4 separate regions of the Homo sapiens genome follow, and all the other regions are linked to region 4. The links come from fine-mapping of genetic effects on gene expression. A gene starts in region 4. Each other region holds a variant in brackets. All regions are shown on one strand. Distances are from middle to middle. Region 1 overlaps SCUBE1 (signal peptide, CUB domain and EGF like domain containing 1). Region 2 overlaps TSPO (translocator protein). Region 3 overlaps SCUBE1 (signal peptide, CUB domain and EGF like domain containing 1). Region 4 holds the start of TTLL12 (tubulin tyrosine ligase like 12).

Region 1 (7,677 bases), 23 kb after region 4:
ACACTCACCCCACCTCTATTCACACCTCCACCCCCACTCATCACACACCCTATATACATACCACACACCCACTCACCACACACTCACCCCCACACACACCACACACCCTCACCTCCATCGACCATACACACCCCCATACACACCACACATCCACCACACCCCCACCCACTACACACACCGCCTCCATTCACCACACACCCCCCCAAACACACCACACACCCACCACACCCCCACTCACTACACCCCACACACACCCACTCAACACACACCCCTACACACCCAGCACACACACCCCTACATACCCCTACATACACACTATACACACCCACTCAACACACACCCCTACACACACACCACAGTCACCACACACACTGAACACCTCCAAACTCACCACACATGCCTCCACAAACACACCACACAGCACACTCCCCCACCCCCCGCACACACACACGCGTGCCCTGAACCCACACCCTGGAGACAGATGCTCCTGCCCTCCTCTGTGCTGTGGGGGCAGGGACTAAATATTCACAGAACAAACCTAAAGTGAGTGCTGGTGGGCGCCAGGAAGGAGGGGCACGCGGGACCTAAGGGGCTGCAAAGGGTGTGCCCAGGTCAGGGGGTCCGGGCAGGCCGCCCAGAGTACGACAGGATGTCCCAGCTGAGGGCGGAAGGATGGGGGGAAAGAGGTGGGGGAAAGAAGGGGCCGAGAGGCTCTGGTGCGTGTGAGGAGCTGGGAGCTGCTGTGGAGGAGGATGGCCCTCCGGCTGAGGTTTGTGTCCCCAGAGCAGTGTCAGGATGCTTCCAGTTTGGGAGCGATGCTCCCAGGGCGGAGCTGGGGGGACAGAGATTGCGGGGAGAGAGCCCAGGACGCATCCCTGGTTTCTGCCTAAGCAGCTTGAGGAGGAAATCAGGAGCCGAGGGCGGCAGCACGTGACTGGCAGACTATGGGGAGACTCAAGTGAATCTTCCCGAACTCTGCAAACCATCCTTTTCTCAGAAGAAGTGACAGCGGGAGCGTTCCAGCCCTGCCCTTGTCCTCCACACCCCGGGGCTCCTGGGCTGACAGTGCTGCTGCCCAGGGCTGAGCTGGGTGAGTCCTGGGTCCCCAGGCCTCTGGCCAGTACCCACCATGTGACACACCAGGCGGCCCTGCCTCTCCAGGCTGGAAGCAGGAAGAGGAGGGAGCCTAGTCCCAGCGGCAGGGGGGCTCCAAGTGACAATGGCACTGGGTAGATCCCACTGATTCTGAGACATCCCCCAGAATACCCTCATTCTACAGATGAGGAGAGTGAGGCTGTGAGCTGGTGAGGAATGTGCCTGAGGCCACATCACCAGGTCCTGGTCCCCAAGTCCTCACCAAACAGCTTCCCTCAGGCCTCCTGGTCTGGAGGAACAGATGTGCAGGACCCAGTCCCCACCATTAGGGCTCTGGGACCCCCAAGCCTCCTGCTCCTCTCCCATCACCACCCACCCTCCCTTGCTCCTCCAGGGGCCAGGGCTGGGGCAGGGGCGGTCCTGGCTCATCACAGGCCCCATCCCAGGGTTACGTGGATTCCCTTCCAATAAACTCACTCACTTTCAAAATTTCCTGGTGGTTCTCCGAGGCGTACAGGCGCCCATCGCGCACGATGTCCTCTATGAGTTGCTGGTAGTCCTCTGGGCAGCGGGTCAGCAGGGGGAGAGGAAGGCGAGGGGCTTGAGGCCCACGTGCTCCCCTTTCACCTCCAGCCTCTGCCCTCCCTCCTGTGCTCCAGCCACGGGCTCTGGGCTATGGCTGGCCGCAGCTCTGCCTCTGTGCCTTTGAACCTGGGGCTCCCTGCACCTGTATTGTCCTCCTCGGGGTTTCACTAAGAACCCCCTATTTAGCCCTCAAAACCCTGCTTGGGCAGCACCTCAGCTGAAGCCTGCAGAGGCCACTAACCGCTGTCTTGCCTGTACCACCCGGTACCACCCTCAGCCTGTCTGGCTCTGGCCCCTGACAGTGTTCGTTCTGCTTCCAGGTCTGTACCTGCCAGGTCGCAGCTCCCTGAGGGCGGGGACGTGCGACTCATCTCTGTGTCTCCAGGGCCCCGCCTGAGCCGTGCACAGTGGGCCGTGAAGACAGTGGATCTTACCATCGTAGGTGACATAGGGCACTTGGAAGCCTTTGCCGCTGTTGCCTTCATTGGATTTGAACTGGATCCAGAGCTTGCGGGAGCGGGAGGTGAAGGCGATGGGCCTCTCGTAGGTCTGGCAGGTCTCATAGGTGGTGATGGACGTGGGAGAGGCTGCGGGTGAAGCATCATTGCTGAGCTGCCACAGGTAGGCAGCTCCTCCTGCCCTAGGCCACTCGCCTCCCATCCAGTCCACCACCCAGCACCTGCACCGAACGCCTGGTCCCCCAAACACAACGGCTTAGTCTTTGTGCTTGCTCCCTCTGCCTCTGAGGCCCTTCCCTACCCTCAACCCGGGTTCTTACTTGTCCTTCTGAGACCCATCTCTGTCCCCTCTTCCAGGAAGCCTCCCTGACTCTCCCCCCATCCCCTCCCAAGATCTTGCTCTGCTCTGGTGAACCCCTTATCACAGGCCCCTCTGTCAGTGGGTCTCCATCTCCCTCCAGCTAACTGCTCCTCGGTGACAGGGCTCAGGCCTGCACTTGGTGCAAGGCCAGGGTGGGAGTGGAAGCTGGGGGAGGACGTGGGAGATGAACTGGCACTGACTGCTGGGACCAGAGGCACAGACTTGGGAAGTCCCTTCTCCCCGAGAGCAAATACACCAGCAAGGCCCACTGAGCCCTGATCTCCCGAGGAGGAAATCAGGAGCCGAGTGCGGCAGCGTGGGTACAGCATGTGACCGGCAGGTGAATCTTCCCAAACTCTGCAAACCATCCTTTTCTCAGACACGGTGACAGTGGGAGCACCCCAGCCCTGCCCAGCCTCTCCCCGCTTAAGGGCTCCTTGGCAAGGCCTCACGGCTCCCTGGGGGCCTTCCCGAGGAGCCCTTCATGGGGGACAGGCTGGGCTTCACTTCAGCTCAGGCTTGTGGTGGGGGACAGAAGGAGGGGATGCTGGGGGCAGGGGAACGGGTGAGGGGAACGGGTGGGGAATGTGGTCCCAGGCCGGTCCCTTGCCCATCCGCACACTGCGGCTTTTGGCTGCTCAGCTGCGTCAGCCTTGCTGACATCCGTCTACTCATTAGCTATGCTGAGCAACTCCTGCCCAGGATAACGCAACTCTGGAGGAGCAGCCCTGGCGCAGACCTCAGGCCCCTCCCCACCCCCTCATCTGGCCGGTCTCTGTGGTCACTGGGTACCCAGAGATGTTCTCTGGCCAGCGTCTGTGGGTGTCTGGGTTCCTGCTCTTCCTTCCCTAACACTCAGACATGGAGCTCGCTCACATGGGCACCCACAGCCCGACAGCAGCGAGGTGCCCTGGACAGGTGCGCTGCAGGTATTTGGCTGGTGCTCGGGTGGCTCAGGGGCCTCCCAGGCATTCCTGCTGCTGTGGCCAGCTGGGCACACAGCGGTCACACCCACTGCTGAGTCCAGTCCTCTCTCATGCCATTCCATCCTTCACTCCCTAAAGTCTCAAGAGGAGCCCTGACGGGGGCGGATGAGCCAGGAGTCCAGGGCTCACAGAGGGGTGGGGAGGGCTCTCTGAGCTGTTATCTTGTGTGGTGCATGGGACGGCCGTGTGGTCCCCCAAACCTCAGCGGGCGGGAGGAGACCCATGGAGCTGGAGCCTGAGGTCTCGCCCTGAGCGGTGCGGCAGAAAGTGGTGGCAAGGGGCCCTGCGGCTGGTCCCGCCACTGGGATGAGGGCCCGGCT[C/T]GTGGCCGGAGTTGAGACCAGGCCTGACCATGTCCCAGCATCCACTCTCGGAATACCCTAAGCTCTCCAGATCTTTCCACAGAACTCTGTAAAGCCAGCTCTTAGACCCAAGTGGGTTTCAACCCTGCCTCCCAGGTGGACTCTGAGGGGCTGGTCCTCTGAGCCCCAGGGCCCTCCTCTCTGCCCTGTGAAGGCAGCGATCCCGCCTGGCAGAACCGCAGCGAGACGGGGGTGCACACGCAGCTGAGGCTGCCTCTGGTCCCCTCGGCCCCCAACATACCACTCTTCCTCATGACCAGAACATCGCCGCACTCATCCTCGATGGGCAGGAAGATCTCAGGGACCACGATGAGGATCCTGCGCTTTGGGGGAGGCGCGATGTGCCAGACGCATTCAGCGTTGGCTGGGTAGTCGCCAGGGTAGTTGGGGGACTCGATGTAGCCGGTGTAGTCACCAAGCTCGCCGCCGCAGTGCTGGTCTGTGGGCACAGTGGCCCGAGGGCCTCATCAGGCTCTGCTGGGCAGGGGCCCTGGCCGGCCAGGCCTCTAACCACCTGGGAGGCCTAGGGCAGGGCTGGAAGGTGCTCTTGTCCCCCCCCACACTAGCCCTCGGACCCTGAGCCCATCCTCCTTGGGGACCCTGCCTGGGCTGCCCCCAGAGCAGGAGGGCAGGTCCCCTGTTCAGGCCTGTGGTTCCCTGAGGCCCAGCCTGGGGGCTTCTTCTTACTGGGCTGCCATGCCTGCAGGCCCACCCTATTTCTCTGTGGCTGGGCCTTGTCAGGGGCACTGAGAGGGCCTGGAGCCCTGCTCTCTCTAGAGGCCCTGTCAGTGCCCCTGTAGGCTGTCAGCCCCCCCAGCAGACCCAGAAACTAGAGCAGGGCCTGGCCCAGGGCAGAGGCTTGGGCTGTGTTGGGTGAGCAGTGGGAACTGATGAACGATGGCCACCACTGTGGGCTCCGTAGAGTGGGCCAAGCCAGGGCTGCCCCTTTGGTGCCACAGGCCTCCAGATGGATGCAATGCACCCGAGAGCAGACGGGACGGAGCGGGAGGAGTCCAGTGTCCTCGTGGAGCTCGTGTGAGATCAGGTCTCCTCCCGCCCCCACAACCTGCCCAGCCCCTCCCGTGTTCCCAGCTTCCCACGGCAGAGCAGCAGCACCCACTTTTGCAGTGTGTGACGTTGGTGGAGCCATCGAAGTCTGTGCTGGTGTTGCCCGGACAGGTGATGCAGTGGTTCTGGCCAAACTCGGGCTGGTAGGTGCCGACGGGGCAGCGGATGCAGCGGTGGGTGGTGGTGTTGTAGTGGTGGCCGGGGGAGCAGTGCACTGCCGGGGGACACAAGGCAGTGTGGTGGGTGTGGAGGGGTGCAGGGAAAGGGCAGCACTGGGGTGCTGTCCCCAGGACCTCTCATGCCCTCGAGGTCTGTTTTGGCACAGAGTTCAAGGCTCCTCCCCACCGCCCCATGACCTCCCACCACCCTCACTCCGCCATGGCCAGGAAGAGCCCTTGGCGTGGGGGTCACATGGCAGATTGATGTGATGTTGGCTCCAGCAAAACAGGGACCACACAGGCCACCTTGATGGGAGCCATTTTCAGGGAGAGCGGGGGCGATGATGTGGCCGGAGGCGTGCGGGGGAGACAGGGAGGAGGGGAAGTGGAGCCAGCTAGGCCAAACCCTCTTTCTACAAGGTTGCTGGGGCAGGAGAGACAGGCGGCCGGAGTCTGAGGGGTGCCGGGGCGGGGGGCTAGAGATGGGCAATTCTTTTTTTTTTTTTTTGAGATGGAGCTCGCTCCGTCACCCAGGCTGGAGTGCAATGGTGCCATCTCGGCTCACTGCAACCTCCACCTCCTGGGTTCAAGCGATCCTCCCCTCCCAGTCTCCCGAGTAGCTGGGATTACAGGTGCACATCACCACACCCGGCTAATTATTTTTGTATTTTTTTTAAGTAGAGACAGGGTTTTGCCATGCTAGCCGGGCTGGCCTCAAACTTCTGACCTCAGGTGATCCACCCCCTTTGGCCTCCCAAAGTGCTGGGATTATAGGTGTGTGCCACCGCACCTGGCTTCTTTTTTTAAATGGGCAAATTCAGAACAGTTTGTATGTGCAGGGGAGTATCTGGTGATGTGGCTGGCTCCAGGGGGCTGAGAGCCAGGCCACCTGGACAGACAGACAGACACTGAGAGGGAGCACGGTGGGGAAGCAGGGTCAGCAGCTGAGAATGGGGAGGATTTGGGGGAGTTGGTGAGTGAGGGAAGACGGGATGTAGACCTGGGTGGGACCAGATGCCCTGAACAGACAGCAGTTGAGGTGATGCCCTGATCCCGCTCCTGCCCCCACACTCCTGCCCCCACACTCCTGCCCCCTCCTCACCCTCCCAACCTCCCTTCTAGATGCTGCTCAAGGCCTCCTGTCCCCAGAGCCCTCCCCAGTGCTCCGAGGAGCTGCTGTTCCCCCTGGAGCTCAGAAAGCTCTCAGCTATAAGGTGTCCCTGTCCTAATGCGGGGCACAGTGGGTCACCCACGCCCACGCCTGACAGCTCCAGGCTCCTCCTCTGAGCTGGGAGGTTCGCCACATGGAGGAGATGAGAGGGGTTCGGGGAAGCCTCTCGGAGCAGTGCAGCCCTGCCTCTCGGGGTGGGCGGGCGTGGTGGGGAGGGCATGCTCACCTTTAGCCTCGCAGTCCTGGAAGGAGGTGGTGCCTTCGTGTTTGGTGAGCAAACCCCCTCCACAGGGGAAGCAGCCGGTGCGCCCGGGCTCAGGCTGGTACGTGCCCACGGGGCAGGCCTGGCAGGGCTTGAAGCCATCGGCCGAGAAGAAGCCTGGAGAACACTGGCCTGAAAGTCAGAGGTCATGGCTCAGGCGGGCAGGAGGGCACCGCAGGGCCGAGGCTGTGGGTGGTCTCAGGCCCCGCTCTTGGCCCTTGCCCGGCCCTGGAAAAGGTACTGGGCACCCGAGGCCTGGGGTGGGGACGGGGTGGGGAAAACGCAGCAGCCGGGGTGCAGGAAGCTGGGCCCTGGTCCGGATGATGCCAGCGGTTCATGTGCGGCCTTGGTCAAGCCTGGCTCTCCTTCTCCCACCAGCAAGAAGGCCTGGGGGTTGAAGAGCAAGAGGCCTTGCTGCTGAGCTGGGAAGGGGACCCACAGGTGGAGGGGCAGGTCACGTGTCTCAGAGGGGCTGTCCCCGGGGGGTAGGCTGCACCGGGGTCTCCGCAGAAGGAGCACCTGCTCAGCTTCAGGGTGACGCTGCCTGGTCTACCAGCAGGGCCAGGCCAGAGCAGAGGGAGGCGGGTCTGGGGAGGGTTTCTGAGGTACTCAAGGGCACCCCTGGGACAAAGGGAGGGGACCACAGGAAAGCCAATTTCAGCTCCGAGTAAAGAATGTTCTTGCGTTCCAGCAGACTCAGGATGCAGAGAGTATTCTGGCATTGAGTGAGAGGCGGGTTTAGCACCCTCTCAGCCCAGACCCTGGGATTCTCAGCTTCTACCCAAACACGGAATCTCCTACCAGTGGCCACTCCCCCAGGGGTGGAGACCACACTCCTGGAGTGGGCGTGGGCCAGAGAGCAGCCGGCAGCCTGGACGGACTCAGGGCTGGGCTCTGAGCCCTTCCATCACCGGGAGAAAGCTGGAGGTCTCCAGTATCCTGGGACCCCACTCCCCCACCCTCACAGGCACTGTGCTTCTCAGGGTGCTGAGAACCTTCCCCGCGGATTCTCTTGGGTGAAACTCACAGTGGCCTGGGAAGAAAGGCTCATGGGGAGACTGAGCTAGCTTCACAGATGGAGTTAAGTGGGGAGAGGGAGGTAAATGCAAAAGCTCTTTGCAAACCTAACTGCATTTGGTAAATTGAAAAAGGGCTTTCTAAACCGTCTGTGGGG
Region 2 (6,050 bases), 24 kb before region 4:
AAATGTTCCCTGCATCCTGGTTCTGTGCCAGCGCAGTGCAGGGTGGGGACGCAGGTGCCAGGCACTCTAGGGGGCGGATAGCAGAGGCCAGGCCAGGTGCCCGGCTCTGATGGGAATAAGGCCCTGGAACTTGGGTGTCACGTGGGCCTCACCCCTCCTGGCCCAGGCCCTGCCCAGCCAGGGTCCTGCACTTCCCTGGCTCCAGTGTCCCCACCCTGCTTGGCCTTCCTACACCACCCAGTCCCAGCCTCTCTTCGGGGGAAATTTTGGGGCTCCCTGTGGCTCTGGATAAGGCGAACCCCTCATTAGTAGGTGACAGCCGGGGCTCTGGCCCTGGCTGACCAGACTTTATCCACTGATGGCCTGCCAAGAGATCTCAGTCACTTCACCGCCTCAGTCTCCTCACTGTAAAGGGGGTGCTGATACTGCCTGCCTTATGGCATCATCATGAGACTGAAATGAGTGAATGCTTGGGAAGTGGTAGGGCCTGGCTCCTGTGAGTGCTGGAGGGCATCGGCTGCTGTTACTGGTGGTGTTATCGTTGCCCTGTGTTAACAGCTCCCATGATCAGGCCTCCCCCTGGACCTCACCCTGCAGTCACAGACTGACTCAGGGTCTCACATCTGCCTCAAAGCCTTTGCATGTCCTGTTTCCTCCCCTGGAAAACTCCTATTCATCATTTAAGGCCCAGGCCAAATGTCCCATCCTCTATGCAGTGCCCTGGCTAGGTTAAGAGCCTCCTCTCTACCTATTCACACCATGTGCTTCCCTTTCATAGCAGTGACAGTGATAATAATGGCAGGTATTTACTGAGTGTCCTAAATGCTGGGTATCGCATGAAGCACTGCCAATGTGCTAACTAGAATCTCTACAGCAACCCTATGAAAAATGAAGGCCCAGACAGGTCAAGCAACTTCCCTGAGATCACACAGCAGTCAGTGTCAGGTCACGTATGAACCATCACTGTGCCACTCGGAGGTGGGCAACGCTCCTGGCCTTGTTCCTAATGGTGCTCTGAACTGCGGCCTCTGTTTCAGGTACGGCTCCTACCTGGTCTGGAAAGAGCTGGGAGGCTTCACAGAGAAGGCTGTGGTTCCCCTGGGCCTCTACACTGGGCAGCTGGCCCTGAACTGGGCATGGCCCCCCATCTTCTTTGGTGCCCGACAAATGGGCTGGGTAAGTGTGGCCACAGCATGTGTCCCTGATCCCTGGATCCGACCCTTGGAGGACGTGGGGCATCACATATGACACTGGGTCAGTGTCTATAGGCGGGGCCAGGGGAGACAAAAGGCCATGTCTCTCTAGCTGTAAGCAGCCCACACCCTGGAGCCTCCCCTCTACTGACTCCTCCGGTGAGGGAAGCTATTAAAGCAGAAGGGGTTGCAGGGGTGGGTTTGGGGGCCACTGTGTAGGAAAACCCACACGAAGCCTGGTACTGTGTGGGCAGGGTCACTGGCCCCTCTACATAACAGCTTCTTCTTTTTTTTTTTTGAGACAGAGTCTCACTCTCTCACCCAGGCTGGAGTGCAGTGGTGAGATCTCGGCCCACTGCAACCTCCACCTCCTGGGTTCAAGTGATTCCCTTGCCTCAGCCTCCCGAGTAGCTGGGACTACAGGTGTGCACCACCACTCCTGGCTAATTTTTGTATTTGTATTTGTATTTTTTTAGTAGAGATGGGGTTTCACTATGTTGGCCAGGCTGGTCTTGAACTCCTGACCTCAGGTGATCTACCCGCCTTGGCCTCTCAAAGTGCTGGGATTACAGGTGTAAGCCACCGCGCCCGGCTGACTGCTTCTTTTTTAAAGTTTTAAACTTTTTTAAGAGATGAAGACTCGCTGTGTTGCCCAGGGCAGACTCGACTTCCTGGGCTCAAACGATTGATTCTCCCGCCTTTACCTCTTGAGTAGCTGGGACTCCAGGTCACGTCACTGTGCCCGGCAGCCTTTTTTTTTTGAGACAGAGTCTTACTCTGTTGCCCAGGCTGGAGTGCAGTGGCATGATCTCGGCTCACTGCAGACTCCACCTCCCAGGTTCAAGTGATTCTCCTGTCTCAGCCTCCCGAGTAGCTGGGATTACAGGCATGCAGCACCATGTCCAGCTAATTTTCTGTATTTTTTTTTTTTTGAGACGGAGTCTCGCTCTGTTGCCCAGGCTGGAGTGCAGTGGCGTGATCTCAGCTCACTGCAACCTCCGTCTCCCAGGTTCAAGCAATTCTCCTGCCTCAGCCTCCTGAGTAGCTGGGACTACAGGCACGTGCTACCACGCCTGGCTAATTTTTTTATTTTTAGTAGAGACGGGGTTTTACCATATTGGTCAGGTTGGTCTTGAACTCCTGACCTCAGGTGATCCACCCGTCTCAGCCTCCCAAAGTGCTGGGATTACAGGCGTGAGCCACTGCACCTGACAAATAGCAAGTTTTTGTTTGGGCCTTGTAGTAATGCTGGGAGGTCAGCATCGCTCTCAGTGGAGGCTCTAAGCTCAGAGAGGGGAAGGGACGTGCAAGACCTCCTAAGCCACCACCGCACCCTTGAACAAACCGAGTTCACTTCAGGCATGTCATGTGCACCCCACACAAGGCATGGGTCAGGTGGCATGACTGTTCCCATTTTACAGATGAGGAAACTGAGGCTGCGATGGGGGAGGGGCTTGGCCAGGTCACTCAAGGGTGGAGTGGGGGTGAGTGAGGCTCCTGACTCCCAAATCCAGTGGGAGTTGGGCAGTGGGACAGGCACTTGGGTGAACGCGGTGCCTCAGGCCTCCCCATCCTCCGTCCCCCAATCTCTGCAGGCCTTGGTGGATCTCCTGCTGGTCAGTGGGGCGGCGGCAGCCACTACCGTGGCCTGGTACCAGGTGAGCCCGCTGGCCGCCCGCCTGCTCTACCCCTACCTGGCCTGGCTGGCCTTCACGACCACACTCAACTACTGCGTATGGCGGGACAACCATGGCTGGC[G/A]TGGGGGACGGCGGCTGCCAGAGTGAGTGCCCGGCCCACCAGGGACTGCAGCTGCACCAGCAGGTGCCATCACGCTTGTGATGTGGTGGCCGTCACGCTTTCATGACCACTGGGCCTGCTAGTCTGTCAGGGCCTTGGCCCAGGGGTCAGCAGAGCTTCAGAGGTGGCCCCACCTGAGCCCCCACCCGGGAGCAGTGTCCTGTGCTTTCTGCATGCTTAGAGCATGTTCTTGGAACATGGAATTTTATAAGCTGAATAAAGTTTTTGACTTCCTTTACCATGGCCTTTTTGCTTGGGTGGGACCCCTGGCCACAGGGAAGAGGGGGAGCTGGGGCTGCACTGGAGCTCGTCTCTGCAGGATCTGCCTGGGCTGCCTTCTCCAGACAGGGCTGGATCCAGCTGGGGCTGCCCCACGCTTCCTGGGACGCTCCCGAAGCCCTGCAGGAGATGAACAGAGCAGCCCTGGGTGCCACCCTGGGGCCCACACTGGCGCAGACCCAGCTGGGGCCGTGGGCTTCAGCAGAGGGAGGGGGTCCTGTCCGCTTCCCATGGCTTCCGGGATGCTCAGCCCGGGCCCTTTAATGGCCGGGCCCACAACCACTGTTCGACGCCTGGTCCTGCCCAGTGCGTGGCCCTCAGCTGCTTTTACCCAGGACAGAGTTGGGGGTGCTGACTGCCCTGTCCCCCGGGGGCCCAGGCTTATGGCAGCCTCACTGCACCAGGGATAGCCCCGCAAACACCCAGTTGGCTCGAGGGGGAGTCAGAGGCAGGAAAGGTTAGGTCCCGACTCCAGCAGACAGGGCCTCCTTGCTGGCCCAGAGCGGCCAGGATTGGAGGTGTCACAGCCACTCACTCCCTCACCCCGGCTTCGAACTGGGTGACCCATGGCCTCTCCAGGCAGCTGTTTGGAGTAAATGAGCCGAGTCCCATACGCAGCACTCCTCCGTCTTGCTCTCGGTCACCACACCCATGCAGCACTCAGCAACACAGCCCGCGGCTCCCTCCCCTCGGCCAGGCCTGACCTGCCGGGCTTTTTGTTTTTTGTTTTTGGCAGCTAAGTTCATTCAAATTGGCAAAATGTTCATAGACAGCTCGTCATCACTCAACAGCCCGCGGCTGCTGCTTCCTCTTTTCTCCCCCGGCTCCTGTGTCCTCTCCCGACCTGTACGCTCAGACACAACCTGACGTTCACAAAAGCTTGGACACAGTGGCTCACACCTGTAATCCCAGCACTTTGGGAGGCTGAGGCGGGAGGATTGCTTGAGGCCAGGTGTTTGAGACCAGCCTGGGCAACATAGGGAGACTCTTGTCTATACCATCCACTCTGGTGCACGCACAACACACACACACACACACACACACACACACACACACACGAAAGAACGAACAGCTCAGGGAAATGGGTAGACAGTCGACTGCATTCTTCTGACAGAAGGGATGGCTCCCGCCCAGGGGCTGCGCTACTCCACCCTGACCCTCAGCCTCCCGCTCCCTTGACTCTGGCAGAGTTTGATGCCCAACAGATCACGCTCTGCAGGATCCAAAAACTCTGCGGCCACGGGCACTCAGCTGAGCCCTCAGCCCTCATGGCTTTCCCGATGCTCACCGGTGCAGAGGAGCCAGCTGGGGAGCCTCTGTGTATCCTTTTTATTAACTTATTTCTGAAGTTCTCCAAGACGCCCAGAGTTGAATTCCTCCAGAGCTCTGTGCAGACAGTCCAAGCAGCGGATGGCAGAGAGGTCCTTGCTAGCAAGAAACTTACAGGCCAGGCTGTCTCCTGCTCCAGCATGCCGGTGAGCATGCACCGTCCCCGCAGGGCACAGGGGTATCCTTTGAAGTGTCAAGGGACACCTGAGTCCGTGCCAGACACTTAGGGATTGGAGAAAGTGCAACCCAGACTTCTGCCATCTCCGCAACTCGTGGGGTTGTTCATCTGTAACAAATGTCCCACATAGCTCCTGCTGGCCACAAAACACGCACTGCCACAAAACGCCTTGGAAAAATGGGCGAGAGGAGAACGCATTTAGCATTTCGTCTGCCGGCTTCCTTTTAACAGCCTGGCGACGTTTCCCCAGGAAATGCTCGTAACAGACAGCATTCTCTCCTTTTCTAAGCTGCTGTCATCCACTGGGAACTTAAGGTTTTGATGCTTTCTGAGTGGGTTTATTTATTATTTTTTTTTGAGACAGTCTTGCTCTATCGCCCAGGCTGGAGTGCAGTGACGCCATCTTGGCTCACTGCAACCTCTGCCTCCCAGGTTCAAGTGATTCTCCTGCCTCAGCTTCCAGAGTAGCTGGGATTACAGGTGTGTACCACCATGCCTGGCTAATTTTTGTATTTTTAGTAGGATGGGATTTCAACACATTGGGCAGCCTGGTCTCCAACTCCTGACCTCAAGTGATCCGCTCGCCTCAGCCTCCCACAGTGCTGGGATTACAGGCGTGAGCCACTGTGCCTGGTCAATTCCGGCTTTGGATGGCTTCTTAACACAGTGATGAGGGTGCAAATGAGTACCAGGAAGAAGTATTTAGTGGGATAAACATCTCCCGGCAACTGCCTCAGCACCTGGAGCCGGCTGGTCTTCCGGCTCATGAAGTCCCTGGCTCTTGGCCTTCCTTGGGGGTGTCCATTTGCAGTGAGCAGAGGTGCAAGGACATGTGGGGACAGAGAATAGCCATCTACAATCATGGAAAGCCTGGACCATGTGGTCTTGATTCTGGGGGCTGTCCCAGCTGCTCCCTGGGCAGGACTATCTCCTGGGCACCAGGTTTTAAGTGAGCTGGGAACTAGTGAGAGCACCAGCTGTTAAGCTTCTGGACAGAGTCCGTGTGAGCATCAGTCCTGAGACCTGCCCTGGAAGGGAGGCTAAGGAGAGAAGCAGCACAGTCCACAGGCAGCCTGCCTCAGGGCCGCTCTGCCTTCCGCTTTTTTTTTTTTTTTTTTTTTGAGACGGAGTCTCACTCTGTCGTCAGGCTGGAGTGCAGTGGTGTGATCTTGGCTCACTGCAACCCCCGCCTCCTGGGTTCAAGCGTTTCTCCTGTCTCAGCCTCCTGAGTAGCTGGGACTACAGGCGCGCACCACCATACCCGGCTAATGTTT
Region 3 (7,677 bases), 31 kb after region 4:
TCTGGCTGCTGCACCTCAGAGTCCTCTGTGGACCCCTCCATCTCCACCCGCTTATAGAAGCCTGTGGTCCCCACCTCCCCCATACGTCTGTCCTCTGTCTGCTCCACACCCTGCCCTCCAGCTTTAGCAAACTGCCTCCTGGATGTCGCCACTTGGATATGCTACAGTCATTTCACCCCGAAGCTCCCCTGTCCTTCCTGAGTGGAGGAGTTAGGGGCAGTGGGGAGGGACTGGGGCTCAAATAGGCAAGGGCAGGAGGGCCTGGCGGGCGAGGTGGGAGGGGCGTAGCGAGGAGATGATGGGCTGAAGACAGCGCAGTCTGGTTGGCTACACTGAACAAATACGTCGACTGATGAGTAAGTAAGGAAACTGAGTAAATCAGTAAATTCAGGAGAAAGGGAGCCGAGTTTCTCAGTGCTGGAGAAGATGCTTACAAATGCGGAAATGGGGAGTGAAGGTTAGAAAAGACCCTGAGGTGTGGAACGGGAGGCACTGGCATGAATTCATGGTTTTAGAACCCCCCCACCCATAGATTCCCATGCCTGTGTGTGCACGTGTATACACATCTATGCTTTCCAGTTCTGTCCGATGAGAGGGCCTAGAGGCAGTGGTACTCCAGGAGCAATGAATATCCCAGATTTTGGTTTCTACCCATCATCCTCCTCTCAAAGGAACCAGGGGTCCTTGGGGATTTGGCTGATGCCAGGGGATGGAGAGTGTCAGTTGGATCTGAAGGGGAGGCTCGCAGCATGTGTGTGGCAGGTCAGACAGACCCAAGAGCCAGCTTGGTGGGGCATCCCTGGCTACCCTGGGGACACAGTGAGCGCCGAACTAAATAACATCAGGAATGGATCACCACGCAATGAGTAAGGGGAATCTGAGTCTATAGGGATACAGACCCAGAGGTAAACGGCCATGGCCACCCACTTTCCTACAGGAGAATGTGACTAGTGAGCGTGGAACATGGAACAAATGGTAGAGGTGGCTGACATGGCGGGAGCTGTGCAGAAGTTTGATGAGGAGGAGAATATTGGTCCAAACTCAGAAAACACTCATCAATCACAGAGAGAAAATGGCGAGTGAAAGTGAAGCCAGTGGCGGGCTGGGGGTATCCTGTGCCTGCTGATGGGGCACCCAGGATTAGGCCTCGAAGCTGAGGTTCCTGCTGGACCCTGGGCCCTGAGTCAGGTCCCCAGGAAAAACCAGAGGGAGCTCTGAGCGTTAGCCTAGAGGAGGTGAGTTTGGGACAAGGGCAGGAGAGGCAGGGAAAGGGGAGAAGCGGCTCCAGACTGAAGGAGCCTGAAGACACAGTGGAGGGTGACATGTCTTTCTGGATGGGAGCTGGGACCAGAAAAACAAAAGGGACATTGTTGGAAGGATTGCTGGAGCTGAATGGGGTGGGTGTGTGGGTTGGATGGTGAAGACTACACACTCACACATGCATGCACACTCACACACATGCACACGTGTGGGAGACGGGGCAGATGTGGTCAAATGTGCACAATTGGGGAATTTGGATGAAGAAAATATGGAAGTTTTTTGTTCTGCTTGACAATGTTTCTGAAACTTTGAAATAATTTCAAAATAAGTTATTTATTTTTATTTTGGGATGGAGTCTCGCTCTGTCACCCAGGCTGGAGTGCAGTGGTGTGATCTCAGCTCACTGCAACCTCTGCCTCCCAGGTTCAAGTGACTCTCCTGTCTCAGCCTCCCCAGTAGCTAGGATTGCAGGCGCTCGCCACCACACCCAGCTAATTTTTGTATTTTTAGTAGAGACGGGGTTTCACCATGTTGGCCAGGCTGGTCTCAAACTCCTGACCTCAGGTGATCCACCTGTCTCGGCCTCCCAAAGTGCTGGGATTACAGGCGTGAGCTACCATGCCCGGCCCAAAATAAGTTATTGAAAGTAGAAGAGGCTGGGCGCAGTGGCTCACACCCATAATCCCAGCACTTTGGGAGGCCGAGGTGGGCAGATCATGAGGTCAGGAGTTTGAGACCAGCCTGGCCAACATAGTGAAACCCTGTCTCTACTAAAAATACAAAAATTAGCCGGACACGGTGGCGCGCACCTGTAGTCCTAGCTACTTGGGAGGCTGAGGCAGTAGAATAGGTTGAACCTGGGAGGCAGAGTTGCGGTGAGCTGAGATTACACCATTGCACTGCAGCCTGGCTACAGAGCGAGACTCTGTCTCAAAAATAAAAACAAACAAACAAAAAAAGAAAGTAGAAGATGACATCACCAAGCTCCCTTTGTCCCCCCTTGTCAGTACGGCTGTCCCCCTCCACTGTCTGAGCCAGAGTCCCAGCTTCCCCAACCTGGCCCTTCCCCTGCCAGGTGTCATCTCTTTACCAACAGCTTCCCCGCCCTCTCCAGGTGTCACCTCTTTATCAACAACTTCCCCCCACCCACCCCCCGCCAGGTGTCATCTCTTTACCAACAGCTTCCCTCCCACCCCCACTGCCAGGTGTCACCTCTTTTCCAACAGCTTCCCCCAACACTGCCGTCACCTCTTCTCTAACAGCTTCCCCCCACCCCGCCAGGTGTCACCTCTTTACCAACAGCTTCCCCACCCCGCCAGGTGTCACCTCTTTACCAACAGCTTCCCCACCCTGCCAGGTGTCACCTCTTTACCAACAGCTTCCCCCAACCCCCACCCCCCATCCGCCAGGTGTCACCTCTTCTCCAACAGCTTCCCTCCTCCCCCGCCAGGTATCATTTCTTCTCCTCCGGCTTCCCAGTTTACACCCCTGGCCAACCCTATTGTTTGAGGCTTCGGACTTGTGGCTGCAACTGCCCATCCAACATCTCCATGTGGATGACTTGTGAGCGTCTCA[G/A]ACTGAACATGTCCAGCCTGCGCACCCCATCCCCGCAGCCCACTCTTCATCAAGTTTCCCTCCCCCCAGCCCACTCTTCCTCAAATCCTTGGGGATTTGGCCGGCGTCAGGAAGCGATACCACCTCTGCCCAATTGGCCAAACCCTTGGAGTCGTCCTTGAAGTCTGTCTCTCCCTAGGAGCCCCCTCCATCTCATGCTCCTCCCCGTCCTTGCTCCGCCCCCGCTACTCAGCCTTCCCGTAAGAGCGCGCATGAGCCTGCGTCCTTGCTCTAAGCATTCCTATGGCTCCCCATCCAACTCAAGAGTGGTGTCTGCCAGGCCCCATCACCTCTGGCCTCACTGTACCTGTGGGCATGTTCACTGGCCCACTGTCCATCTTCCGCACGGGCATGTGAGCTCCACTAGAACTAGGACTGTCTCGTGTGCTGGTTCTGCCTGTCCTGCGTCCAGGCTCTCCCCTCCAGCGCACACCCGCCCGCTGGGGGCCGGCCTCACCTGCTTCCCTGCAGCACGACGCTGCCCTCCTGGGCGGCCCTAGGCCTCACGACATCCCTGCTCTGTCCCCCGACCCTGACTCAGGCTCCCCAACTCCTGGAGCCCTGAGGTCTTAGCTAACGTGACTTCTCCTCCAGGAAGCTTCCCTGAACCACATCCCAGACTAGAGAGGGCCTGTTCTGGTTCCCGTGCCCCCTCGCGCCCCTCGACTGTGGCCTTGCTGTCCTGTCCACTCCTTGTCCCTCCTCAGACTGTGATCACATGCCCGAGGCCCAGCACAGAGGAGTGCTCTTCAAATGACAGTGATGACCATGAGGGCTGCAGTCCTTCTCCCCGGCAGGCCTCTGCATCTCTCTGTCCCCTCCCCAGGTGTCTGTCTCACCTGCGTGCCCACCACTGTTTACCCCGGCTCATGTGCAAGGAAGGACAGAGTCAGCATCTGAGTGGCCATGGGCAAGGACTCACCGCATTTGCTGTCCTGTAGCACCTGGCCTGCGCCACATGCCCCCTGCCCCTCCAGCGCCTTGGCTGGCCTCTGGGCTACCTCGTACTCAGTGCCTGAGACCTGGACATAGAACTGCTGCCGGCCGATGGACTTGCGCAGGGTCTTGATGGCGGCCTGCAGGCTCTGTTCTGCTCGCTTCCGCAAGCAGTCCGCTTCGCATGTGTCTGCAGGGGCAGGAGAGACAGAACATGAATCGCTGGCAACCTTGCTAGCCGCTGCCTTCTTAGCTGAGGGCTCCCCCGTGCCAGGCCCTGCACTGGGCTCGGACCTCCTCAGCACATTCTCACAACAGTCCTGGGGCAAGGGGCCACTGTCATGCCCATCTGACAGATGAGGAGGCTGCGGACCTGGGAGGCAGGGCCTGCCCACGGCCACGCAGCAGATCTGAGTGCAATCCAGGCAGCTGCCACTGCACCACATCACCCCCCAGGGTACGACTCACGGGGCAAGAACGCCTTTCTGTCACTCAAAGACTCTTGGGGACTGCCACTGTCCCCAGGATAGTGTCCAGCTCTCTGGCCTTGAATCCAAGGCCCTTCAAGGTCCAGCCCCGTATGGCCTTGCCAGCCTCATCCCCTCCACTCTGACACTCCCTGTGGATTCCAATGTCTAGCCACCTGGCCCTACTTACTGCTTCCTGGACACCTCCTCCTCTCTCTGACCTCTGTGCCTTTGCCTATTCTATTCCCTCTGCCTGAATGCCATTCCTTGCCACCTTTTCCACCCAGTGAGCTTTGATTCTAAGCTCTCATTCAAATGGCACCTCTTCTGGGAAAGCTTCCTGATATGGTTTCAATATTTGTCTCTTCCAAACCTCATGTTGAAATCTGATCCCTAATGCTGGGGGTGGGGCCTGGTGGGAGGTGTCTGGGTCATGGGGTAGGTCCCTCATGAATGGCCTGGTGTGGTAGTCAGTTCTTGCTGGCTCTACTAGTCGCCACGAGATGTGACTGGTGAAGACATAGGCACCCCCTCCCCTCTCTCTTGCTCCCTTACTCTTGCTATGTGATGCCAGCTGCTCTTCACCTTCCTCCGTGAGCAGAAGCAGCCTAAGGCCTCGCCAGGCAGATGCTGCTGCCGTGTTCTCGGACAGCCTGCAGAGCCGAGAGCCAATAAGCTCTTTTCCTGATAAATTATGCAGCCTCAGGTGTTCCTTTTAGCAACGCAAATAGACTAAAACATTTCCTTTTTTTTTTTTTGAGATAGAGTCTCACTCGTCGCCAGGCTGGAGCACAGTGGCGCGATCTCAGCTCACTGCAATCTCTGCCTCCCAGGTTCAAGCGATTCTCCTGCCTCAGCCTCCTGAGTAGCTGGGATTACAGGTGCCTGCCACCACACCTGGCTAATTTTTGTATTTTTAGTAGAGACAGGGTTTCACCATGTTGGCCAGGCTGGTCTTGAACTCCTGAACTCAAGTGATCCACCCACTTTGGCCCTCCCAGACTGCTGGGATTACAGGCGTGAGCCAGTGTGCCCAGCCAGACTAAGACATTTCCTAAGCCCTCCCGTGGGGGGCAGACCTCAGTTCTATGCATTGTTTGTTCTTGTGCCCCCACCACCGAGAGTCCCACCTGGCAATGGGTGGTTTGCACGTGCGTCTGCCTCTCTGGCTGAGAGTGTTACCTGGGTGGGGACTTTTCTTTCCACAGCGCCCAAGCCCACAGCCAGGCCCATACCACACTTATCTGCTGACAGATCCCATCTCTTCAACATCAACGACTCACAGGTTGACACTCACATATAGCCAAGAGCAAAGTGCTGCTGTGACACCCGAGCCAGCATTAGAACCTCCTTCAGGAACCAGGAAAGACAATCCTTGGCTCAACCATTCTAGGGGGGCTGCACCTATTTGTCCTCCCGGGTCCCAGCAGGAGTGTGGAGGGGCAGATAAGGGTCATGTGACTTTTGAGGTCACCTCGGCTCTTCTGTCTCATTGCCCTGGGCTGCCTCTTCTATCCTGGGCTGCAAGCGTTGACCCCTGCCAGCTCCCTTTGCTTGTGGGCCTGCCTCTGTCTCCAGAAGCTGGGCTCCCATCCCAGCCACAGCTGTGCTCTGGTGGGAGCCTAGCTTCATGCCTGGCAGGCCCCCGGCAGCGCCACCAGCCTGTCGTCCTCCTTCAGGCCTGCAGAAGCCCCCAGGAGAACCCCTCACCTACCTGAGGCCTCTTCCATCTTTGTCTCGATCTCAAACTCTGCTGTGATGTGGGACACCTCCTTGGATGGGGACTTGCGGCCACGGCGCCTCTTCTTGGAGGAGTCACACTTGAGGGTCACGAAAGTCACATGGCAGTGGTCTGGACGAGGAAAGGACCACTGTGGCAAAGGCGGCATGGGGCAGGGAGCAAGGTCCTACCAAGCCCTGCATACAGAGTGCCATTGGCAAGGACTTCCTGGTCCGTGGTGCAGACGGAAAAACTCAGGCTAGAGAAGGTCAGGGCTGGCTCGGGGTCTCAGGAGGGGCTGGTGGCTGAGCCAGGTCTCACGCCCGGTCCATCACGCTGCTGCAGGTGGAGGCATCTCATACATATTCATGAATGAGGCTGTGCCCCCAGCTCTGGGCCTGCTGAGGGTTTGGCCAGTGCAGACTCGGCTCTGGGCAGAGCCTGCTGCGTGCTGAGAGCTCTGTTAGGTTTGAGAAGGAATCTTCACGGGGACAGAGCTGGTGCCTTCCTCCGGGGCCCCTCGTACCAAGCTTGCCCTCCGCTGTTTCCCCAGCCTGCAATGTCCTTGGAAACTCTCATTCAATAAACAGCTGCCAGGTGAGAGAGACCTCCACCCTTGGAAACCAGACTCGCTGGACCCTGGGGCCCCAGCTCCCAGGCATGAGGACTCTCCTACAGCCCCGTTGGTGTGGGTTAGGAGCAGGGCGTCCCACTCACCCAGCAGCGGCTGCCTGGCGGTCTCCTTTGCTCGTGCCTGGCTGTGGGGCCGGAGGTGGCACTTGGCATCTCGGATCTTGAAGCGGGCCTTCTGTTTGATGGGGGTGGTGGGGGCATCTGGGGAAAGCCAAAATTCCCCCAGGTGGTGGCCTCTCCTGCAGGCAAGGAGGTGGTGGGGGACGGGGGCTGCCAGGGGACAAATCCATCTGGAGCTGGGGGTGGGGCTTGATCTGAGTCCCTGTGCCCCGACAGCTCTCCTGGGGTGGGGGACCCTCTCCTGCCCCATTTCTCTCCCTGCAAGGCCTAAAACAGGTGAACACATGGATGGTGGGGTCAAGCTCAAGCCCAGGGGCCACCCGCCAGAGGTCTTCTGAGAAGGAGGACAGGGATCCTCCTACCTCCTCCCCATCAGCAAGCCATGATTGTGCTTTAGGAAAGAGCGTAGAACAGAAGAGAGATAGGACAGCAAGGAAGGGAAGGGGCTTTGAAATACTATAGATCCAGGACTGCCGGTTCCTTGCAAGAGCAAATCATAGCCCTTGGACTAAAGAATCCTACCACCACAGGTGCTTAGAATCAAATCACATATGCATTAAATATATAGAAATGGGCAGGGTGCGGTGGCTCACGCCTGTAATCCTAGCACTCTGGGAGGCCGAGGCAGGCGGATCACTTGAGGTCAGGAGTTCCAGACTAGCCTGACCAACATGGTGAAACCATGTCTCTACTAAAAATACAAAAATTAGCCAGGTGTGGTGATGGGCACCTGTAATCCCAGCTACTCAGGAGGCTGAGGCAGGAGAATTGCTTGAACCTGGGAGGCGGAGGTTGCAGTGAGCCGAGATCACGCCACTGCACTCCAGCCTGGGTGACAGAGCGAGACTCCGTTTTAAAAATAATAATAATAATAATAAAGAAACATACAGAAATGCACCTATCTATCAAATCCAGCATCCTGAATAA
Region 4 (6,120 bases):
CTTTCAGGACACTGATGGAATGAAATCAAACAGCGTGCATAAAGTCCTGGCGCACAGTGGAGGCTCAACAAAGGCCAGTTCCTCCCTAAAACGTATTTCCCACTACTCGATTAAAAACGGCAGTTGGAAACTAGCTAAGTACTCAGGTGCAGGCAGCTTTTGTGCACTGGGCAGGACTTGCCCTTTGGTGGCGTGAGGATGAATCACTCAAGGTCTCGCTCAGGAAGCTCAGGCTGAGTAAGGTCTAGGCCACCTAAGAGTATCAGGTAAATTGCTCTGGGGCCTGGAGGGCCTGGGAAGACTTTATGGATGAGGAACCATAACCAGAGGCCAGCTTTGAAGAAGGGGAAGATTTAAACATGAGGCTACGGGGTGAGGATGGAAAGGAACTCCACGCAGAGGGAAGAGTAAGAGCGAAGGCCTGGAGGCAGATAGCCCAGGGTGGAGCAAACCAGGGGTCACATGAGAGACAAGGCACCTGAGACAAGAGCCATCCAGTTCTCCTTTAGCCCTCAAGGTGGGTCTGGGGAGGCTACTGCCTTCTCCAGTTTAGGGCTGGGGGGAGGCTCAGAGGGCTGGAATCCAGACCTCGGGCTTCCGCCCCAGTACTCCAAATCCCTAGGGGACAGCGTGAGGCTGAGGGTCAGAGAGCCTGTCTCAAGCCTGGCCTGGATTCAACCCAGCTGTGAAATGGGGTGCTGGGTTTCTCCTTCACCACAACCCCTTCATGGCAGGACTGGAAGAGCTCCCCAGGAGATAAGGGGAGTGGTTTTGCAACTGGGAAGCTTGTGCAGACAGAAGAGTAGACATTTTAAAAACATCTCTTCGGCCGGCCGTGGCGGCTCACGTCTGTAATCCCAACACTTCGGGAGGCCAAAGCGGGCGGATCACGAGGTCAGGAATTCGAGATCAGCCTGACCAACATGGTGAAGCCCCATCTCTACTAAAAATACAAAAATTAGCTGGGTGTGGTGGCGCACGTCTGTAATCCCAGCTACTCGGGAGGCTGAGGCAGGAGAATCATTTGAACCCGGGAGGCAGAGCTTGCAGTGAGCCGAGATCATGCCACTGCACTCCAGCCTGTGTGACAGAGCAAGACTCCGTCTCAATTAAAAAAAGAAAAAAATTATATATATATATATATATATATATATATATATATATATATATATATATATATGTATGTATCTTCAAGTTTCCCCATCCTTTCCAGGGCAGCCGGCCTAAGGTGAGGCAGGAGGGCTGATGGCCAGGGGTGTAAGGGCCCACAGCGCTGGCAGGTGCTGCTGCTGCTGGCGGCCTCCTCCACACCTGGGCCAGTAGCAGCAGGAGGCTTCACTCAGGAAGAGCTGCAAGTTTGTGAATGGTAAAGCAGTGATTCAGCTCTGTCCTTAACGGCTGGGGAAGGGTCACGGAAAAACACTGGCTGCCCCTTAGTAGGGCAACAGCAGGCAAGGCGGCCTGGGCAGGGGACGTGGCACGGTGGCGACCACCCTCTGTGTGCCAGGCATATTTCTCATGCCACCTCCCATCCTTCCAATACTGTGGGAGCCAGATGGTGTCTCACCATCCCCTTCCCAGATGGAGAACAGGTCTCAGACGGGCGAGTGACCGCCCGAGGGAGGGCGTGCTGCCGTGGAGGCTGGCTGGGCAGGAGCTGGTCATTCCCACTGTGCTCCTTCCACGCAGCCCATGGGAACCTTTTTGTCCTCATGAACAAACCAAGGTCCCTTCCACCCAGCACAGGCCTGGGACCAGAGTGGTCCTCGGAAAGCATATGGCAGAAGTGAGGGGCAGAGGAAACTCTCTGTTACACTGTAGCATAAGGAGGTGCCACTCACTGCACGTTTCCAGCAGGAAGGTTCCTAGTCCAATCAGGATTACACAGAGAAAAACTGGCTCAGAGACCGTAGAGTCTGGCCAGCAGCCAGGCTCAGGGACTCCTAGTTCCCGGCCCGGGTCCCTGTTCTTGGCTCTGGGGTTTCCACTTCATCACCTGCGCCACTAGGCTCATCTCCGTCCGGGAGACAGCACCTGGAGGAGATGTCGGGTCCCAGCTAAAGAAAACACCCCCCCCCCCGCCAGCCCGGGAAGGTGCTGTGGCCTCAGCCTCTGGGCACGCAATAAAAATCCAGGGCTCATCCCCAGCCAGGACAGTGGGGAACGCTTTGGAGTGGAGGAGGCAGGTGAGCCGGATGGGCCGTCCTCACAAAAAGGGAGAGAACCTAGAGGCTTCTCAATCTTTTCCATTTTTCTTTAGATTTCTCCTCCACCTCTCACAGCCTGTTTTCTTTAACCTGCAAGATGAGGGGACCCCGAGGCTCAAATCAAATGAAAAAACACCGAATTCTGTGAACCCAACAGTTACAGCTACACAAATTCACGGGGTTCCCGTTGTCCCTGTGAGGCAGCGGCTGAAAGAATCCCTCTGAAGGGACTCTCGGAGCCGCAGTGTTCTCATCTGTGAAGTGGGGGTGATGAGTTTCACTCCTCGCAGGGCTGTGTCAGGCTCGGGTGTGTGGAGGACCTAAAGTTCCCAACGCAGCCCTCAGCCGGTCTCGGGCCCGGGCAGATCAGGGCCGCAGGTACCCCGGTCTCCTGCTGTCACTCTTCGGCCCCCAACTCCACGCCGCTCCAGAGCTGCCCAGGACGCGCTCTGGGTGGCTCACCGCGGCTCCCGCCGCCCGGGAGCGCTCTTCCCTGTCCCGCGCCGCGGGCTCCCGCCGCGCTCCCACCCCGGCCGCCGCACGTGCCCGCCGCCCTTCCCCGCACCTCGTGCTCCAGCTTGTGCAGGAGGCGGCCCCAGTAACGTTCGGGGACCCCCGAAGCGCGCAGCGCCGGGCCGTGCAGCGCCGCGAACTCGGCCAAGGCCTGCGCGCCCTCCTCCGGCGTCTGGCCCGGGCTGCTACGCTCCGCAGGCCGGCGCTCGGGACCCCGCTCGGCCTCCATGGCGCCAGCACCCGCGCCGACTCCAGCGCCGCCACCGCCGCCGCCGCCCGCCGTCCGTCGGCCCTGCCCTCCCGCCTCCGCCCCCTGCCCCGCCCCGCCCTCCTCCCAGCGCCCCCCCCCCCGCCCCGCCCTCCTCCCAGCCCCCCCCCGCCCCGCCCTCCTCCCAGCCCCCCCCCGCCCCGCCCTCCTCCCAGCCCCCCCCGCCTCCGCCCCCCGCCCCGCCCGCCTCCCAGCACCCCCGCCCCGTCCTCCTCCCAGCCCCCCGCCCACCGCCCCGTCCTCCCCCCAGCCCCCCGCCCCTGCCGCGCCCCCTGCCCCCGCCCCCTGCCCCCCTCCCCACCGCCCCGTCCTCCTCCCGGCCCCCCCGACCCCTCCCCTGCCCCGCCCTCTTCTCGCCCCCTCACCCCGTCCCGCCCCGCCCCCAGTCCGCCTCCAGCCCGGTTTGCCGCGGCCCCCGGGCAGGCCCTGCGCATCGGCGGGGTGCGTGCGAGAGCGCGCGAGCTTGCCAGGAGGGGGCGCGCGTCTGCGACCGCGCCTGTGGTTTGGCTGCCGCCGTGTGCGCACGCGCACCTGATGGTGGCTGAGCTTTTCTCGCTCAGCGCGCGGCGACCCCGGGGAATGCCGGGAGGGCGGGGTGCCTACGTATAGGGCGCTGTCAGGACCGGAAAAGGCCCCACCGACGGCCCGGAAGGTGTCCTGGGGCCCGAACCCGGTGAGGCGGCGCTTCTGTGCCTGCACCGGGCACACAGAGCTCGCAGGCCCCCTGCCTTGGGAGCTCTCGATTCTTGTGAGCGTTTCACCAGATTTGGATGCTGCAAAATCGTGGCCCTTCTCAATTACTTATATTTGGATTCGGAATGTCAGTTGATCCAATTAAGACCAAGTGTACCCGTCAGAGGAATTTACTCCTACATGTCGGGATGTTTCGAAGTGCAGTTGAGCTGGGCGTGGTGGCCGCGTCTGTAGTCCCAGTTACTCGGGAGGCTGAGGCGGGAGGATAGCTTGAGCCCAAGAATTCAAGTCCAGCCTCGGCAACATAGCCAGACTCCCTCTTTAAAAGAAAACAGTTCAGTTATAGAATTTCAAAAGACATTCTCTTTTGAACTCTCATTGAGTTTTATTGCTCCATAGGGATACATTTCAATGTCTTCCTTTTTGCAATTTTGTAAGAATTGTAATTTGCTAAAAAACAAAGGCTGAAAATTTTTTGGAGCTTCAGATGCTATTTTGATAACATTTTTGAACTGAGTTTGAATAAAATGCACCAATTCACGGACTTGTTCAATTCCATTGTAGGAAGCAGGTGGGTCTGCAAAGGCAAAAATTTCCAAACTCAAGTTGGTGAGGGCTGCAGAGAAAAACATTTTATTTATTTATTTATTTTGGGATGGAGTTTTGCTCTTGTTGCCCAGGCTGGAGTGCAATGGTGCAGTCTCGGTTCACTGCAACCTCTGCCTCCCGGGTTCAAGTGATTCTCCTGCCTCAGCCTCCCAAGTAGCTGGGGCTACAGGTGTGTGCCACCACGCCTGGCTAATTTTTTGTATTCAGTAGAGACAGGGTTTCACCATGGCCAGAGGAAAACCCTGATTCCTCGGTTTTTGTTGTGGAAGCCAAGGCTGAGATTGTACCATTGCACTCCAACCTGGTCAACATAGCGAGACTCCATCTCAAAATAAATAATATAGTAAAACAGCATCACAATGCTAGGATGGGGCATGCTGGCTCACACCTGTAATTCCAGCACTTTGGGAGGCCAAGACAGGAGGATCACTTGAAATAAGGAGTTTGAGACCAGGCTGGGCAACAAAGCAAGACCTCGACCCTACAAAAAGAAATTTTTAATTAGCCAGGTATAGTGGTACACACCTAGTGCACCTCCCGCTTCCACAACCCTTCCATCGGTCCCGCTGGGGAAGACAGACTGAGTCTCAGTTGTGTCAGGTACTGGTCAGATTATGTGAACATTCCTGACCCAGCCCCTTTGACCAGGAGAATGTGAGGCTCTGACAGGGCAGTCCTCTTTCACATGCTCCTCCCCAAATGTAAACCCAGTTGTATCAGATCCCTACTTGGAACCCTTTGTGGTTCAACTCTTCACCTGAGCTCCAAGGCTCTGTGTGAGCTGGCACTGCCAACTTTTCCAGCCTCTTTTCATTACACTCTTCCCCTCACACTGTGAGTCCCTGTATCTCTGGTTGTCTTCAGCTCCTGGAAAGCATTGTGCTCTGTTTTCTGCCAGAAAGCCTTTCTCCCCATGCTCACTTTGTAAATCCTGACTCATTCTTCTCAGCTGAAATGTTGTCTTCTAAAGAGGCACTGAAGAATGTGTATTTAATCAACATAAAATTACTGCTCTGCTCCCATTACTGCCACCAACCCCCTCCCCCTCCAGACAATTGAAAAAAAGGAGAGAGAGAAACAGGGAAAAAAAAAAGAGTTTAAAAGTCCCTTCCATAGCCGGGCACAGTGGCTCATGCCTGTAATCCTAGCACTTTGGGAGGCCAAGGCGGGTGGATCACCTGAGATCAGGAGTTCGAAACCAGGTTGACCAACATGGTGAAACCCCATCTCTACTAAAAATACAAAATTTAGCCGAGCATGGTGGTGGGCACCTACAATCCCAGCTACTCAGGAGGCTGAGGCAGGAGAATTGCTTGAACCCAGGGGTGGGGGTATGGAGGTTGCAGTGAGCCAAGATCGCATCAACTCACTCCAGCCTGGGGGAAACTCCGTCTAAAAATAAAAAAGGCCCTTCCATCCTGAAAATCCAAGCCCAGGTTGACCTTTGGTCCCTGATAGCTTTTTGTTCTGAGAGCTTTGCCAAGGGTACTCATACAAAATGGGTTTTTCATACAACATGGAGCCTAAACCCAATACAATGACTTTGTGAAAGTTGATCATAAGAATTGGGTCACCAGGCGTGGTTGCTCACCCCTGTAATCTCAGCACTTTGGGAGGCCGAGGTGGGTAGATCACTAGGTCAGGAGTTCAAGACCAGCCTGGCCAAGATGGTGAAACCCCCGTCTCTGCTAAAACTACAAAAATTAGCCTTGGTGCGGTGCCTGTAACCCCAGCTACTTGGAAGGCTGAGGCAGGAGAATTGCTTGATCCCTGGTGGCAGAGGTTTCAGTGAGCCGAGATCGTACCACTGCACTCCAGCCTGGGCCACAG

The links. PIP is the estimated chance that this variant, and not a neighbour inherited with it, causes the effect.
Region 1: its variant is the best candidate, but not a certain one, in a credible set for the expression of TTLL12 in sun-exposed skin (GTEx, PIP 0.83).
Region 2: its variant is the best candidate, but not a certain one, in a credible set for the expression of TTLL12 in whole blood (INTERVAL, PIP 0.86).
Region 3: its variant is the best candidate, but not a certain one, in a credible set for the expression of TTLL12 in whole blood (TOPMed, PIP 0.76).

What each region holds. Positions count from the first base shown.
Region 1 is chr22:43,205,958-43,213,634 of GRCh38, forward strand. It overlaps SCUBE1 (signal peptide, CUB domain and EGF like domain containing 1), which reads right to left. Exons shown (of 22, transcript NM_173050.5): 17 at 6,468-6,635; 18 at 4,965-5,126; 19 at 4,086-4,283; 20 at 2,115-2,267; 21 at 1,577-1,656. SCUBE1-AS2 (SCUBE1 antisense RNA 2) reads left to right here and starts at 6,717. Exons shown (of 2, transcript NR_134632.1): 1 at 6,717-6,740; 2 at 7,198-7,677. The variant C/T (reference allele first, on the strand shown) is at 3,806.
Region 2 is chr22:43,160,015-43,166,064 of GRCh38, forward strand. It overlaps TSPO (translocator protein), which reads left to right. Exons shown (of 4, transcript NM_000714.6): 3 at 1,038-1,176; 4 at 2,789-3,228. The coding sequence ends at 2,977. Among named protein-coding and RNA genes, the nearest start is that of TSPO, 11 kb to the left of the region's middle. RefSeq lists enhancers at 3,032-3,535, 3,536-4,038. The variant G/A (reference allele first, on the strand shown) is at 2,952.
Region 3 is chr22:43,214,459-43,222,135 of GRCh38, forward strand. It overlaps SCUBE1 (signal peptide, CUB domain and EGF like domain containing 1), which reads right to left. Exons shown (of 22, transcript NM_173050.5): 13 at 6,715-6,831; 14 at 5,992-6,129; 15 at 3,797-4,000. Among named protein-coding and RNA genes, the nearest start is that of SCUBE1-AS2, 5.6 kb to the left of the region's middle. RefSeq lists an enhancer at 5,789-6,290. The variant G/A (reference allele first, on the strand shown) is at 2,836.
Region 4 is chr22:43,184,121-43,190,240 of GRCh38, forward strand. TTLL12 (tubulin tyrosine ligase like 12) reads right to left here and starts at 3,014. Exons shown (of 14, transcript NM_015140.4): 1 at 2,773-3,014. The coding sequence starts at 2,949. RefSeq lists enhancers at 1,665-2,169, 2,110-2,189, 2,200-2,259 and silencers at 2,640-2,859, 2,900-3,059, 3,308-3,427.